Regions from separate parts of the Homo sapiens genome. Here region 1 is linked to region 2. The links come from fine-mapping of genetic effects on gene expression. Tissue or cell type: NK cells. Region 2 holds a variant in brackets; the other region holds the start of a gene. All regions are shown on one strand. Distances are from middle to middle.

Region 1 (8,095 bases), 110 kb before region 2:
AACGTAAATGCGGAGTAACTCAAAACAGTGGCTTACAACTCTGGCTTATGTAAGTATCTTCAACGAAGAACAATAAATTTCTGGAGAGAAGAAAGAACAAAGGAAAGAGTTTTAGGCTTCCAAGGGTGAGAAACTGTGGGAATGTAAATCTACAGAAGGAAACTAATACAGTAAGGTTTGTTTGCAGATTCGTCTGGGGCTTTCTGGGCTGGTAAGAGCCTAGACAGAATTTATGTCCTGCCTTTTAGGCAGAAAAAGGAGAGAGCGAGCTTTCCCTCCTTAATTGCCTTCAGCTCAAAAATAATTTTTATATAAAAGAGGTATATTTTGGCCTGGCACAGTGGCTCACGCCTGTAATCCCAGCACTTTGGGAGTCTGAGGCAGGTGGATCACGAGGTCAGGGGTTCGAGACCAGCCTGGCCAACATGCTGAACCCTTGTCTCTACTAAAAATACAAAAATTAGCCAGGCATGGTGGCAGGTGCCTGTAATCTCAGCTACTCGGGAGGCTGAGGCAGGAGAATCACCTGAATCTGGGAGGCGGAGGTTGCAGTGAGCTGAGATCGTGCTATTGCACTCCAGCCTGGGCAATAAGAGCAAAACTCAGTCTCCGGGAAAAAAAAAAAAAGGCATATTTTGAGGTGACATTCTGGTTTCCTTCAATAGTTTACCTTCAAGAATAAGATTGTTAGAGCTAGAAGGGACCTTATTGATATTCTTAGCTAACATGTTTATTTTATAAATGGAGAAGTTGAGGCTTTCAAAGGTAAAGTGGCATGCCCAAAGTAACTGAGGCAGCCCAGGAGCCTGAGAGAAGATTTTTTTTCCCCTTTTTTGACTTTTATTTTAGGGTCGGGGGAATGTGCAAATGTGTTACAAGGGTAAATTTTGTGTCACTGGGGTTTGGTATACAAATGATTTCATTACCCAGGTAGCGAGCATAGTATCTGATAGGTAGTTTTACAACGCTCACCCTCCTCCCACTCCAAGATTAGTTTTTACCAAAGATTTAAAAATGCATAGTATTTGACTTTTTATTTCATTCATTTACCAAAAATTTAGTGAGGCCATTTGGTAGGCACTTTGTTTCCTATGTCAAGTACTCCAGTCGTTTTACGCAGAATAAAATTTTAAAAAAGGAGAACAGCATATACGCATTAAAGAAAATTTGAAATTAGGCTTTTCCAGTATCCTGGATTAGGTGGTGACACAGCTGTAATGACTTGTTCTAGGTGTGGTTATTTCTTAAAAAACAATTGTGAAAATATACATAACAAAATTTACCATTCTAACCATTTTTAAGTGTGCAGTTCAGAGGCATTACGTACATTCATATTGTTGTGTAACCATTACTGACATCCATCCACAGAATGCTTTTCATCTTACAAAACTGTAACTCTATACCCATTAAACAATAACTCCCCATTCTCCTCATCCTAGGCACTAGCAACCACCATTCTACTTTCGATCTCTCTGAATTTGACTTCTCTAGGTTAGGTGTGATTATCTTTAAAGAAGAGGGTGGGTGGGACACCAGAATCATAGATGCAAATAACTTTAATTAGCGTATTTGGATTTTTAAGGAACCCCTTTCCTTTCTAGGATCAAAAGTGGTTACATTTAACAATATTTACATTTTTCACAGGTGATTAGTAAGCTTTTATAAGAAGTAATTTTATAATCTGAGAAGTTAGGAAATCCCCTGGTTACAGAGTAATAATCTAATACAGTAATTATAATCCTTTTTTATATTTAGGAACAAGGTCCTTTTGTATATACCATGCCATTAAGAAGCACAGAATGGAGAATACTTTTACTCAGAATATTTAAAAATATCTAATGATACTTTTTTTTTTTTACAACGAGTAAGTTTTCATTTATTTTCATATTTAGGAAAGCAAAACAAAACAAAAAACCTCTAGAAAATATGTTTGAAAGAAAGAATACTGTTTTGGTACAAAAGCAGCACTATTTTTCTTTTCCCAACACAGAAAGCAATTATGCAGTTTTTTAGAAAAATAATAATGCCTGTATTACAATTCCATTTAGTAAATTGTAGAAAATAATAGTGGTTGTGAAATTATATCTGTAGAAATTTCAAAATAAGATGAAAGTACATAATGTCCCTCCTCACTGTTCACCTCTCCCTAGGGAACAAAAAAGTTGTATTTAATCCACCAGAGGCAAGGACACATAGAAAAAAGAATATTAGAGATAGGAAAAAGAAAAAAGCAGATGTCACTAAGTGTTGGTTTTACCAAATTGGAGTATGCAACAGAATCGTCTGGGAAGTTTATTTTTTATGTTTTTTGGAGACAGGGTATCTGTGTGTCGCCCAGGCCGCAGTACCGTGTAGCGATCATAGCTCACTGCAGCCTCAAAGTCCTGGACTCAAGTAATCCTTAAATCTCATCTTCCCCAGTAGCCGGGGACTATAGGTGTGCTCCACCGTGCCCGGGTCATTTTTTTTTTTTTTTCCGAGACAGTCTGGCTCTGTCGCCCAGGCTGGAATGCAGTGGCCTGATCAAGGCTCACTGCAACTTTTAACTCCATGGGCTTAAGTGATCTTCCTGCCTTAGCCTCTTGAGTACCTGGGACTACAGGCATGCGCCACCACGTGTGGCTAGTTTTTTTCTTTGTAGAGAGGAGGTCTCACTATATTGCCCAGGCTGGTATCAAACTCCTGGGCTCAAGGGTGAGTCATAGCATCTGGCCTGTATATTTTTGTGGAGAGGGGGGTCTTGCTTTGTTGCCCAGGATGGTCTGGAATGTCTTGGCTCAATCTATTCTGCCTCGGCCTCCCAAAGTGCTGGGATTACAGACGCGAGCCACTGTGTCCGGCCCAGCTTGACTTTAGAATCAGTTAAGTTCTTTAGTTAAAAAAGTTAATTTGGGCCAGGCGCAGTGGCTCACGCCTGTAATCCCAGCACTCTGGGAGGCTGAGGCGGGCGGATCACGAGGTCAGGAGATCGAGACCATGCTGGCTAACATGGTGAAACCCCATCTCTACTAAAAAATACAAAAAATTAGCCGGGCGTGGTGGCGGGCGCCTGTAGTCTCAGCTACTCGGGAGGCTGAGGCAGGAGAATGGCGTGAACCCAGGAGGTGAAGCTTGCAGCGAGCCGAGATTGTGCCACTGCACTCCAGCCTGGGCGACAGAGCGAGACTCCGTCTCAAAAAAAAAAAAAAGTTAATTTGTGAGGAAACTGAAAATTCAATTATTTTTCAGAAAGCAATGTTTTTGTTAAACAGAAATTAACCAAATAAAACGAAATCCTTACAGTAAACTTCAATCCCAGCAAGACTTAAAGTATTTCTGCTTTGCAGTCATTCCTGCCATGTAGAACACTTCCCCAGGCCCAACACCCCACAACACCTGGGGCCTTACCTCTACCTGGGGACTGACCACATTATAATTAAGAAGGCTTAACTCACGATGAAGGGGACTGCTCTAGTGGACGAGTTGGGCCGATCCCTTTATTGACTCCGTTAGGATGGGAGATGGGGGTTGGAGGGATAGGCGTTAGGGGTATAAAGGGGCCAGCTTGGGAATCAAACCCTACTTCCAGAGTCCCTTCGGGCTTTGAACATGCCAGAAACATTTTCCCTGCTTAGAGCACTGTGCTGAATTTTGTTAAACTTGTGATTAAATCGTCATGAAAGCTTACACGTGCATTTAAAAATTATTCAGATATGCACCATTAGGGATAATCAGGCTAATAGTACCAGACCTTGAGTTCATTGAGGACTGGATTAGTCCCTTAAGTATCGTGGTAAATGTTAATTGAACAAATTCCAAGTTTATAGCCACCCACTTTCTGTCATATCAGCATTTCAGTTATTGAAAAATTAAGTTCTAGCTTTTCTTTTAAGGAACTTTAAAAATCACAAGTTCGAATTTTAAAAAGGAATCCTAAGACATTTTTCCTCGTCTGCTGACATATTTCCACAGCAAATGCTAAACTAATAGCTAGGCTATTATTAGGTGATTTTGCCATCTTAAAATCTTTTGGTTTCTGAGTTCGAGGAAAGGCGTTGGGGGCAAATATGTAAGAGAGGCTGTGAGGGATGTAATACTGCAAACGCTAACGTTTTGTTTTCATAGTTGTTTGGCCACCTCGCGAGATCCAGTGAACCGGAGGAGTTCCTGTTTTTCCCTTTTAATTTTTGTCAATCTAATCTTCAAAGTCAACAAAGCTAAAATCGAGCACCCAGGTGGTTCACCTCCCCAGAGGGGCTCAGATCATGAAATAAACGCCACCAAAAAAACGCTGGAAGAGGCAGCCCACAGTGAAAAGTCCCAGGAAGTGATTTCCGGTCGAAGGTGGGAGGGGCGGCTGATTTCCGGTCGAAGGGCAGGCGACGGCTCTTGCGCAAGCGCGCTTCGCACTTTGCGGGCTTTTTTTTTTTTTTTTTTTTTTTTTTTTTTTTCCTTTCCCCTCCCCCTCCCTCTCCAAGCCGGAGGGGTCCTGAGGTGACAGCGCCTGCAACTGAAATTTCAGCAGCGGGAGAAGATGGACAAGAGAAAGCTCGGGCGACGGCCATCTTCATCCGGTGAGAAAGGGTCAGAGAAGGGCTGAACATATTGTCTCCTACCCGGGGGAAACGGGAGGCGCAGGCGGCAGCTGGGGTTGCGGCCCGAAGCCGCGGGGGCGAGGGCGGGGGCGGGGAGAGGAAGGGGCGCGCACAATGGAAGGCTCCCGGGTCGCCCCCGCCCCTGGAGTCGAAGACCCGGTCCGAGCTGTCATCGAAGCCTCGGGCGCTCTTCACCTCAAAACCCCTTTTATTTTTTCCCTCCTCCCGCGAACACCCTCCTTGCGTCTCATCGGCCCATGGATCTTCCCGGTTGGCTTGTCACTCTCTGCCACGCCTTCCTCGTAATTCCACCAATGTTCCAATTTCATTTCGGCTTCTCAGCGCCTGACCCCACTTTCCTCTCTTCCTTTGATTCTCGACTTTGCGTCCCTTCCCCTCTCCCTCCTCTTTCCCTCAGCAGGTAGCTGCTGCTGGGGAGGAAAGGTGGGGCTTGCGACCGGAGACTCCTTTTCTTTGATACAATGCCTCTCCGGGTCTCGTTCTGCTGAACAGGCCCGCCTAATAGCCTTTTTCTTTTCCAGCCTACCCTGCGTCTTCCAAAAGTGATTGGAAAGTCAAACAAAGGATTTGAAGCCGTGCTTTCGTTGTGTTTTTATTTTCAGCATATTTTTTGTTTTGGACGTTACTTTGTTTTAAATGACTATCTTCAGTTTTGTGTACAACGTCTTGGAAACAAGAAAGTGGAGTTATAAAAACGTGAGGTAGAGCTCCTCCCAGTTGAGAAGTTTTTATCAAACATTTCATCCATTAGGGGGTCCTCAAGTCCTTGTGTTAAGTCCTATGGATGGTAGGAGGAGAGGACGAGGACTCATATGCTTACAGTCCAGTACACAAACGAACGCCCAATGAATCAATTATTTCATTTCATTTTTCTGTTTCTGATGGTACCGTTGGTTTCTGCAGAGACAGTTAACAATTACAGATTTATTGGCCGGGCGCGGTGGCTCACGCCTGTAATGCCAACACCTTGGGAGGCCGAGGCGGTCGGATCACAAAGTCAGGAGATCGAGACCATCCTGGCTAACATTGTGAAACCCCGTCTCTACTAAAAAATGCAAAAAATTAGCCGGGCGTGGTGGCGGGCGCCTGTAGTCCCAGCTACTCAGGAGGCTGAGGCAGGAGAATGGCGTGAACCCGGGAGGCGGAGCTTGCAGTGAGCCGAGATCGCACCACTGCACTCCAGCCTGGGCAACAGAGCGAGACTCTGTATCAAACAACAACAACAACAAAAAAAAAACAAAAAAAACCAATTCCAAATTTATTTAGGAGTGCCCTGTGGCAGTGCATCTCAAACTGCTTTCAGCCTTAATTGCAAAGGAGAGTGATTATGGATCTCTGGGGACACTGCTTGAAGCAGTTGAAAACCTGAAATCCCTTTTCATATGCAACCAATGTTATCGATGTTCTTGGTGTATATTCTGGAGATAATAGTTTTTTCCTTTGAAAGCACATGTATAAATGATATATATGTATATTTATACATACATGTAGGTATATGCCTCCAACTGATGAGTGTTTTAATAGTCTCCACCCCCCACCAAACCTCTAAGTAAAATGGACACATTAGGAAAACGCACAATGCTTAGCTGGTGTCATTTGCGGGCTTCCTAACACAGAACTTTAGGTGTGATCATATCTTCCTTTGAGATGCACAACCTTTTTTAAATAAATGCATTTCATCTAGGTTTAATACATTTTTGAGGAGGGAAGGTAAGATATTTGCCTTGTAATTCAACAAGTCACGTTCCTTTTTACCTGATTACACTTAGATTTATTTATTTGTCACAGTAACTTGATGTAAGTAGTTGTGGGAAGTGGATTTTGATAATAAAGCTGTTAATCCTTAAAAGACATTGATATTTACGTTAGTTATATCTCTAGAGAGCGTTTTCTTTTTCTCGTGATCTCTCTTTTGGAGCTGTCCTTTCTGAAAAGTAAGGTATAATAAAATCCATACCCAAATCTAATGTTACCTAGCTGTTCTCCAGTATGCCTCTAGTTTTAAGATGTGCACTAATTAATTTTTAAGTATGCTTCTGCTTTTCTTAATAGCGTATATTTAATTTCCTGAATAAATTCTCAGAAATAAAACATTGGCTGGTTGAAAGATTCCGTGTAGTGGTTGTAGGCATGCAGTTGCCATTTCATTGTAAGTTGTTGCTAACTGGAACCCAAATGAAGTGACTTTTTTTTTTTTTTTTTTTTGAGATGGAGTCTCGCTCTGTTGCCCAGGCTGGAGCGCAGTGGCACAATCTACCACCCCTGCCTCCCAGGTTCAAGCGATTCTTCTGCCTCAGCCTCCCTAGCAGCTGAGATTACAGGTGCCTGTCACCATGCCCGGTTAATTTTTGTACTTTTAGTAAAGATGGGGTTTCACAATGTTGGCCAGGCTGGTCTCAAACTCCTGAGCTCAGGTGATCCACTTGCCTCGGCCTCCCAAAGTGCTGGAATTACAGGCGTGAGCCACCGTGCCCGGCCATGAAGTGACATTTATAGTCATCAAAGTTTCCTAAGTATGCAGAAGAGTTTGATTAATAAAACAGGAAGAAGAGGTAGAAGGAAGGTGGGTAGCAGTAGAAAGATAAAATAAAACACAAAATTTGAAGTTTTATCTGTGAGACTACATTAGGCTGCCCTAAACTTTCTGCTAAACAAGGAAGAACTGTAAAATGTTCACAGTGTACCGCTCAAAACTTTTTCAGTTGCAAGTAGCAGAAACCCAATTCCAGATGGTTTAAGCTAAACACATGTATTTGTAACTCATGTAACTGATAACTATACCATTTAAAGCAGTATATTAGATGGTGATACACATTAAAAAACGGCTGGCATCAGAGACAGGTTCACTGAAGTTGAATGATAAAGTGTCTGGGAGCAAGGGAGAATGACCATTAAAAGTGTTAAACAACAAAAATACAGCACAGATAAATTAGAATCATAGACTGCAATTTTCAAGTGAATTTTTGAATCAAAATAGGAAACGTCAAGTAAATTTGAACCAGTTTTCAACTGATTGCTTCAGGCAACATTCTTGGAGGCCTGTGTCACTCTCATTTGTAGTTAAGGATAACGTATGTTCTTTAAGTACTTAGGCACTAGACATTGTGCTAAGAACTTCACAAACTTCAATATTTTCAAAAGCCTTATAAGGTAATTGTTTTTCATTTACAGATGAGAAAACCGGGATTTAGGGGCAGGATAAAGATTAGTAATAGCTAGTAAGGAACAGAATTCAAAATGTGGTCTCTAATTACAAAATCTATAGTTTTAACTTCATTTACTGCTACTAGTGTCCCTGATGGTATAACTTTCTTAAATCTTTCAGTAGGTCCAGGTGATGTTTGCTTTGCATTGAAAGTGTAATGAATGATAATTGAAGCTCAAGATGAGAACTTAACGATTAGTTATGATAAAGCTGCATTATTTGCAGCAATCTTAGTTGAAGTCATTGGAATGAATGGAATTGCCCACAAAAAATAGTATAGAGTGAGGAAGGTCTT
Region 2 (8,105 bases):
TTCTTAGATTTGGTCATTTAACATAATCCCAGACTTCTTGGAGGCTTTGTTCATATTTTCTTATTCTTTTTTCTTTGTCTTTGTTGGATTGGGTTAATTTGAAGACCTTGTTTTCAAGCTCTGAATTTCTTTCTTCCACTTGTTCAATTCTATTGCTGAGACTTTCCAGAGCATTTTGCATTTCTATAAGTGTGTCCAAAGTTTCCTGAAGTTTTGATTGTTTTTTATTTATGCTATCTATTTCCTTGAATATTTCTCCCTTCACCTCTTGTATCATTTTTTGGACTTCCTTACACTGGGCTTCACCTTTCTTTGGTGCCTCCCTGATTAGCTTAATAACTAACCTCCTGAATTCTTTTTCAGGTAAATCAGGGATTTCTTCTTGGTTTGAGTCCATTGCTGGTGAGCTAGTATGATTTTTCAGAGGTGTTAACCTTATTTTGTCATATTACCAGAGTTGGTTTTCTGGTTCCTTGTCATTTGAGTAGGCTCTGTCAGAGGGAAGGTCTAGGGCTGAAGGCTGTTGTTCAGATTCCTTTGTCCCATGGGGTGTTCCCTTATTATAGTACTCTCGCCCTTTTCCTATGGATGTGGCTTCCTGAGAGCGGAGCTGTAGTGATTGTTATCTTTCTTTTGGATCTAGCCACCCAGCTATTCTACCAGGCTCTGGGCTGGTACTGGCGGTTGTCTGCACAGAGTCTTGTGACCTGAACCATCTATGGGTCTCTCAGCCATGGATACCAGCATAGTATTTGGGGTGTCCTGGGTCATGCTGGTGTACTCTGCTTCCTTCAGGAGGTGTGTGGGTCCTCTTAGGCTTCCTGATTTATTCCTGCAGTTGTTCTGGAGCAAAAATTCACGATGCGAGCTTCCACATGCTGCTCTGTCTGTCGAGTCAGAGCTGCAATCTAGTCTGCCTCCCATCCACCATTATCCCCTTTTGTTCCCAATTCTGGAGGCAAGAAATCCAATCAAGGTGTTTTGAGGGCTGTGAGAGAACGCCTGTGCCAGGCCTCTCTCTTTGGCTTGTAGATGGCTGTCTTCTCCCTGTGTCTCTTCACATTGTTTTCTCACTGTGCGTCTCATTGTGGTTTTGATTTTTATTTCTCTAATGATCAGTGATGTTGTGCTTTTAAAATATGATTATTGTCTGCATGTGTATCTTCTTTAGAAACGTGTCTGTTCATGTCCTTTGCCCACTTTGTAATGGGATTGTTTGCTTTTTTTCATGTTAATTTGTTTAAGTTCCTTGTAAACTCTGGAAATTAGACATTTGTTAGATGGATAGATTGCAAAAACTTTCTCCCATTCTATAGGGTGTCTGTTCACTCTAATGATAGTTTCTTTTGCTGTGCAGAAGCTCCTTAGTTTAATTAGATCCCATTTGTCAATTTTTGCTTTTGTTGCAATTGCTTTTGGCATTTTTGTCATGAAATCTTTGCCCGTGCCTGCCTACGTCCTGCATGGTATTGCCTAAATTTTCTTCTAGGTTTTTTATACTTTTAGGTTTTACATTTAAGTCTTTAATCCATCTTGAGATAATTTTTATATATGGTGTAAAAATCGGGTTCAATTTCAATTTTTTGCATATGGCTAGTTCTTTTCCCAGCATCATTTATTAAATATGGAGCCCTTTGTCCATTGCTTGTTTTTGTCAGGTTTGTCAAAGATCACAGAATTGTAGGTGTGTAGTATTACTTCTGGGCTCTTTATTCTTTTCCATTAGTCTGTGTGTTTATTTTTGTACCAGTACCATGCTGTTTTGGTTACTATAGCCCTATAACATGGTTTGAAGGGATGTAAGGTGATTCTTCCAGTTTTCTTCTTTTTGCTTAGGATTGCCTTGGTTATATGGGGTTCTTTTTGGTTCCATATGAATTTTAAAGTAGTTTTTTCTAATTCTATGAAGAATGTTGTTGGTAGTATGATAGGAATAGCATTGAATCTGTAAATTGCTTTGGGATATATGGCCATTTTAATATTGATACTTTCTATCCATGAGCCTGGGATGTTTTTCCATTTGTTTGTGTCTTCTCTGATTTTTTAAAGTAATGTTTTATAGTTCTCCTTATAGAGATCTTTCACCTCCCTGGTTAGCTGTATTCAGAGGTATATTATTCTTTTTGTGGCTGTTATGAATGAGATTGCCTTTGTGATTTGGTTCTCCACTTGGCTGTTGTTGGTATATAGGAATGCTAGTGATTTTTGTACATTGATTTTTTTTATCCTGAAACCTTGTTCAAGTTGTTTTATCAGCTGAAGGAGCTTTTGTGCTGAGACTATCGGGTTTTCTAGATAGTTGTTGCAGCACTTTTTATTCTGATTATGGTATAAATGGATATTTTCAAGAGTTTCCTGAAGTATCTGTTGGCAATCTCAGTTATCTGGAATCCTTTGGCAAATTAGCATTGAGGATGTAGTATAATGTAATAGGACAGACAAAAAACCCCCAAAGATAACAGGCCCAGGTTCTTCCACTAGGAAAGCTACTTATACTTGGGCAGCTTATTTAACTTTTCTGAGCGTTGGGTTCTTCATGTTTACAATAAAGAGAGGACTAATTTATTTTAAAGTTCTCCAAGGATCTAAAATTTTATGCTGTCTGGAACATAATGAAATGAACATAGTGTCTTTATGTAGGGAAAAATAGTAAAATTTTTAATTAGGGGATGTGCATTGTTTTAGTCATAGTGCCATTGCACACTTAATAGACTACAGTATAGTGTAAACATAATTATATATTCACTAGGAAGCCACAAAATTTGTGTGACGTGTTTTATTGTGATACTCACTTTATGGCGGGGGTCTGGAACTGAACTGGCCCTGTCTCCAAGTATATGCGTATACTTTTGTTTAAGTGAAAATGTGAACTTCACTGTACTTTGTTACCTTTGTTGTTTTATGCAGAGGCATCTAGAATGATGAATCCTTTCCGGAAGATTTTCAGTTTACTTTTCCCAGACCCATCAGAGGAAATCACTGTTTGTGGTAGCTATATGAAATGTATTTCTTAAATTGTAAGACTTGAAACTTGAAATTACTTCTTGATCCATGGGCTATAGAATGGATGTTTTATTAGCAGGCATGAAAACAACACGAATTCTCTTGTACCTCCCCATCAGAGCTCTTGGGTGACTAGGTGCATTGTCAACGAGCTGTAATATTTTGAAAGGAATTTTATTTATTTTTTTTCTGAGTGGCAGTTCTCAAAGATGGTGTTAAGTGATTCAGTGATCCACGCTGTAAACAGATGTGCTGTCATCCAGTCATCCAGACATTGTAGTTCCATTTTTAGAGTACAGGCAAAGTAGATTTAGCATTTTTTTTTTTTTTTTTTT[G/TG]AGACGGAGTCTTGCTCTGTCGCCCAGGCTGTAATGCAGTGGCATGATCTCATTGCAACCTCCGCCTCCCAGGTTCAAGCGATTCTCCTGCCTCAGCCTCTGAAGTAGCTGGGACTACAGGTGTGCACCACCATGCCTGGCAAATTGTTTTTTTTAGTAGAGGTGGGGTTTCACCATGTTGGCCAGGCTGGTCTCGAACTCCTGACCTCAAGTTATCCGCCGGCCTCTGCCGCCCAAAGTGCTGGGATTACAGGCATGAGCCACCATGCTTGGCCCAATTTAGCATAATTCTTAAGGGCCATTGGATCTTTTGCATGGTAATTGAGCACTGGCTTCACAGATAAGACACCAGCTTCATTAGCCCCTAACAAGAGAGTCAGCCTGTCTTTCGAACTTATGCATTGACTTTTCCTTTCTAGGTATGGAATTCCTAGATGTCATTTTATTCCAATAGAAGGATCTTTCATCTACATTGAAAATCTGTTGTTTAGTGTAGCCACCTTCATCACTTATCTTAGCTAGATCTTCTGGATAACTTGCTGCAGCTTCTCCATCAGTACTTGCTGCTTCACCTTGCATTTCATGTTATGGAGATAGTTTTTTTTTTTTTTTTTTGAGGCAGGGTCTCATTCTGTTGCCCAGCATGACTCATTTCAGCTTTGACCTCCCAGCTAGCGTCATCATGGCTCACTACAGCCTTGATCTCCCAGGCTAAAGTGATCCTCTCACTTCAGTCTCCCGAGTAGCTGAGGCTACAGGTGCATGCCACCATACTAAGCTAATATTTTCTATTTTTTGTAGAGACAGGGTCTCACTATGTTGCTCAGGCTGAGACAACTTCTTTTCTTAAAGCTTGTAAACCAACTTTTCTTCTGCAGCTTCCTAACCTCTCTCAGTCTTCATAGAATTGAAGAGAGTATCTTGCTCTGAGTTAGGCTTTGGCTTAAGGGAATGCTGTGGCTGATTTGATGTTGTATTCAGACTACTATAACTTTCTCCATATCATCAGTAAGACTGTTTTGCTTTCTTATTATTTGTGTGTTCATAGGAGTAGCACTTTTTTTTCCTTTTTTTTCCTTTTTTTTTTTGAGATGGAGTGTTGCTCTGTCGCCCAGGCTAGAATGCAGTGGCAGTATCTTGGCTCACTGCAACTTCAGCCTCCTGGGTTCAAGTCATTCTTCTGCCTCAGCCTCCCGAGTAGCTGGGATTGCAGGTGCCTGCCACCACACCTGGCTAATTTCTGTATTTTTAGTAGAGACGGGGTTTCACCATGTTGGCAAGGCTGGTCTTGAATTCCTGACCTCAAGTGATCCTCCTGCCTCAGCCTCCCTAAGTGCTAGGATTATAGGTGTGAGCCACTGCACCTGGCCAGGAGTAGCACTTTTAAATTTGTTCAAGAACTATTCTTTCTCATTCACAACTTGACTCTGCAGCAAGCAGTCTTGCTTTCAGCCTGTCTCAGCTTTCAACATGCCTTCCACACTAGGTTTAGTAATTTTTAGTTCTTTTTTTTTTTTTTTGAGACAAGGACTTGCTCTCTTTCCCAGGCAAACAGAGGTGGCGCAATCCTAGCTCTCTGCAGCCTTGAACTCCTGGGGTCAAGTGATGCTCCTCTCTCAGCTTCCCAAGTAGCTCGGACTACAGGCATGTACTGCCATGGCTGGATGGCTCGTTAATTATGTTTTGTAGAGATGGAGTCTTGCCGTGTTTCCCAGGCTGGCCTCAGTCTCCTGGCCTCAAGTGATTGTCCCACCTTGACCTCCCAAAGTGCTGGGATTGCAGGTGTGAGCCACCACACCCAGCCATTTCTAGCTTTTGATTTAAAGTGAGAAACTTGAGACTCTTCCTTTCACGTGAATATTTAGAGGCCATGGTAGTGCTGGAATTGGCATAATTTCAACATTGCTGTGTCTCAGGGGATAGGGAGGAGGCCTGAGGAGAGAGAGAGAGATAGGGGAATGGTTGGTAGGTGAAGCAGTCAGAACACACACAGCATTTGTTAATTAAGTTCAATGTCTTATGCATGCATGGTTTGTGGTGCTTCAAAGCAATTACAATTGTGCCATCAAATATCACTGATTACAGATCATCATACTAGATATAATAATAATGAAAAGATTGAAATATTTTGAGAGTTACCGAAATGTGACACAGACACACAAAGTGAGCACATGCTGTTGGAAAAGTCATGCTGATAGATGTGTTCTACTCAAGGTTGCCACAAACCTTGCATTTGTGAAAAACACAGTATCTGTGAAGTGCAGTAAAGTGAAGCACAATAAAATGAGGTATGCTCGTACTCTGGCTCTTTCTATATATTGTTTCTTACAAACAAAGTATAAGTAAAGTATTGCTAGTGGCATATTGATAACAGTCAACTGGGCATCTAATAAAGAGGAGTTAGGAAAACTTTAAAATTACATAACAGGAACTTAAAAAAATCACAATAATTTGGCTTGGGCCAGTGAATTCTGGGCTGAATATCAATATTGAAGGCATTATTGTAGTGTGGCAAAGTAATGTTCATAATAATGACTGGCCAGCAGAGTAAATATTGCACTAATTTTATACCAAATGTACTTCTTTATATATCAAATGTACATCTTCTGTTTAAGAAGATATCAGGCTTATATAGTGCATTTGATATAAAACTCACCAATTTAAGGTCTGGAGACTTAAAAATACAGTCCAGGCTAGATGCAGTGGCTCACACGTGTAATCTCAGAATTTTGGGAGGCTGAAGTGGGAGGATTGCTTGAGCCCAGGAGTTTGAAACCAGCCTGGACAACATAATGAGACATAGTCACTACAGAAAATAAAAAAGTTACCTGGGCGTGGTGGCTTGTGCCTATAGTCCCAGCTACTTAAGAGGCTGAGGTAGGAGGATTACTTGGGCCAGGAGATCGAGGCTGCAGTGAGCTGTGATTGTGTCACTGCACTGCAGTCTCAAAAAAGAAAAACCAACTAAACAAAAACTTTAATTTTCTAAACATTTAAATGTATTGACTCTTTTCCTGATGCTATTACATATTAGCATATATGTTATCACCATTATATGTGCTGTTTCAGTTACGGAATCTTTCATTACCAGAGATGCAATCTGAATGATGTCTTGTTGGATTTATTATTTGTCATTTCCCAATTGCAAGTATGTAAATTACTTATCAAAGACATTTCTGTTAAATGAGAAGAACAAAGATTTCTTGAATTGATTTGTAGTAAGCTGTGTTTTTAATAATTTCTGGAAAAGGAAAGAAAGCATTTTTAGAGAAGAATTTGTTAAAATTTTAAGCCTCTCAATGGCATCCATTAGTATAATTAAAGATATTGTAGTGGCAGGCTAATCTATGTTATAAGTGATAAGAAACAAGTGCTTCTATAAACCAAAAGATTGTGTTTTTCTAAATTTTTAAGTATTTATGGGTTAATTTCTAGGGTGGTGTAGTTCGAACAGCTTTCTTGTGCTAAGATGGCAATGATTGAAAATTCACCTTCCTGGAATACATTTTTTTTTAACTGAAAACTTCAGTACAGTACAGTGTTTGTTATTCTATGTGACAGGATACCCAGAGTTATATTGACGAATGTCCTGGGAACGGAGTTAGGAAGAAAATACATAAGGACCCCACCTGTAACTGAGGGAAGTTTGAGTGATACAGACAACTTGCAATCAGAGCAACTTTCTTCATCATCTGATGGCAGCCTAGAATCTTATCAAAATCTAAACCCTCACAAGAGCTGTTATTTATCTGAAAGGTATGTTTAGTGATAACTTTACTCAAAATAATTATATTTATTTTTATGTATCCTTCCCTGTTCTTTTTCACAGATACATTATTGCTAAATGTGAGGTAAATGTGCTCTGATAGCTGGTATTATTTTTCTCCCCGGGTGGCTGGAATGGCTATTGGAACCAACAGTCCATGGCTAATAATGTGTTTCAGAAGCACTGGCCACCATACTTGTATTTTGGAAAAATGGATACAGACACTTAATGAAAATCTGGTAACCTATTTCAGTATCCCAGTTTGTCTGGTGTAATTGAAATCCATTCCTCTGACATTAGTCTATTGCCCTCTCTTTTTCTGTTCTATTTGTCCATCTATCCATCTACCCATTCAGTCTTGTCTGTTATTTTGTTTTACTTTAATTTTTTTGAGGCGGAGTCTCGTTCTGTCGCCCAGGCTGGAGTGCAGTGGCATGATCTCGGCTCACTGCAACCTCTGCCTCCCAGGTTCAAGCGATTCTCCTACCTCAGCCTCCCAAGTAGCTGGGACTACAGGCACGTGCCACCACGCCCAGCTAATTTTTTGTATTTTTTAGTAGAGACAGGGTTTCACCGTGTTAGCCAGGATGGTCTCGATCTCCTGACCTTGTGATCTGCCTGCTTCAGCCTCCCAAAGGGCTGGCATTACAGGCGTGAGCCACTGCCCCCGGCCTTGTCCGTTATTTTTATATTCAGACTCTAGAATTTTAACTAGTACTTAGTGCTCAGTAAATAGTTTTTGAATGAATGGCTGAACACATTCCTTAAAAAAATGGTTTGAGATTTTCCATTAACAAATGGAAAAGCTGAATTCCATTGACAAATGTAGCTTGTTGTGCCAATAAGAGAAATGCAGATCTGAAGTTGCCTTTGTTTTAAGCTCTAGGAGAGGATTGTGTGTGGACTGGAAATAAGAAAAAATCTGTGGCACAAAGCTAGGGATGGTCAGTTAGTACATTCTGTTAGATTTATAAACTTCCATTTGCTACAAGCTTCTGAAG

The links. PIP is the estimated chance that this variant, and not a neighbour inherited with it, causes the effect.
Region 1: it holds the start of SENP7, and the variant in region 2 is fine-mapped to the expression of SENP7 in NK cells (Schmiedel 2018, PIP 0.95).

What each region holds. Positions count from the first base shown.
Region 1 is chr3:101,509,549-101,517,643 of GRCh38, reverse strand. SENP7 (SUMO specific peptidase 7) reads left to right here and starts at 4,432. Exons shown (of 24, transcript NM_020654.5): 1 at 4,432-4,553. The coding sequence starts at 4,514.
Region 2 is chr3:101,397,850-101,405,954 of GRCh38, reverse strand. It overlaps SENP7 (SUMO specific peptidase 7), which reads left to right. Exons shown (of 24, transcript NM_020654.5): 6 at 6,900-7,094. Among named protein-coding and RNA genes, the nearest start is that of IMPG2, 81 kb to the right of the region's middle. The variant G/TG (reference allele first, on the strand shown) is at 3,339.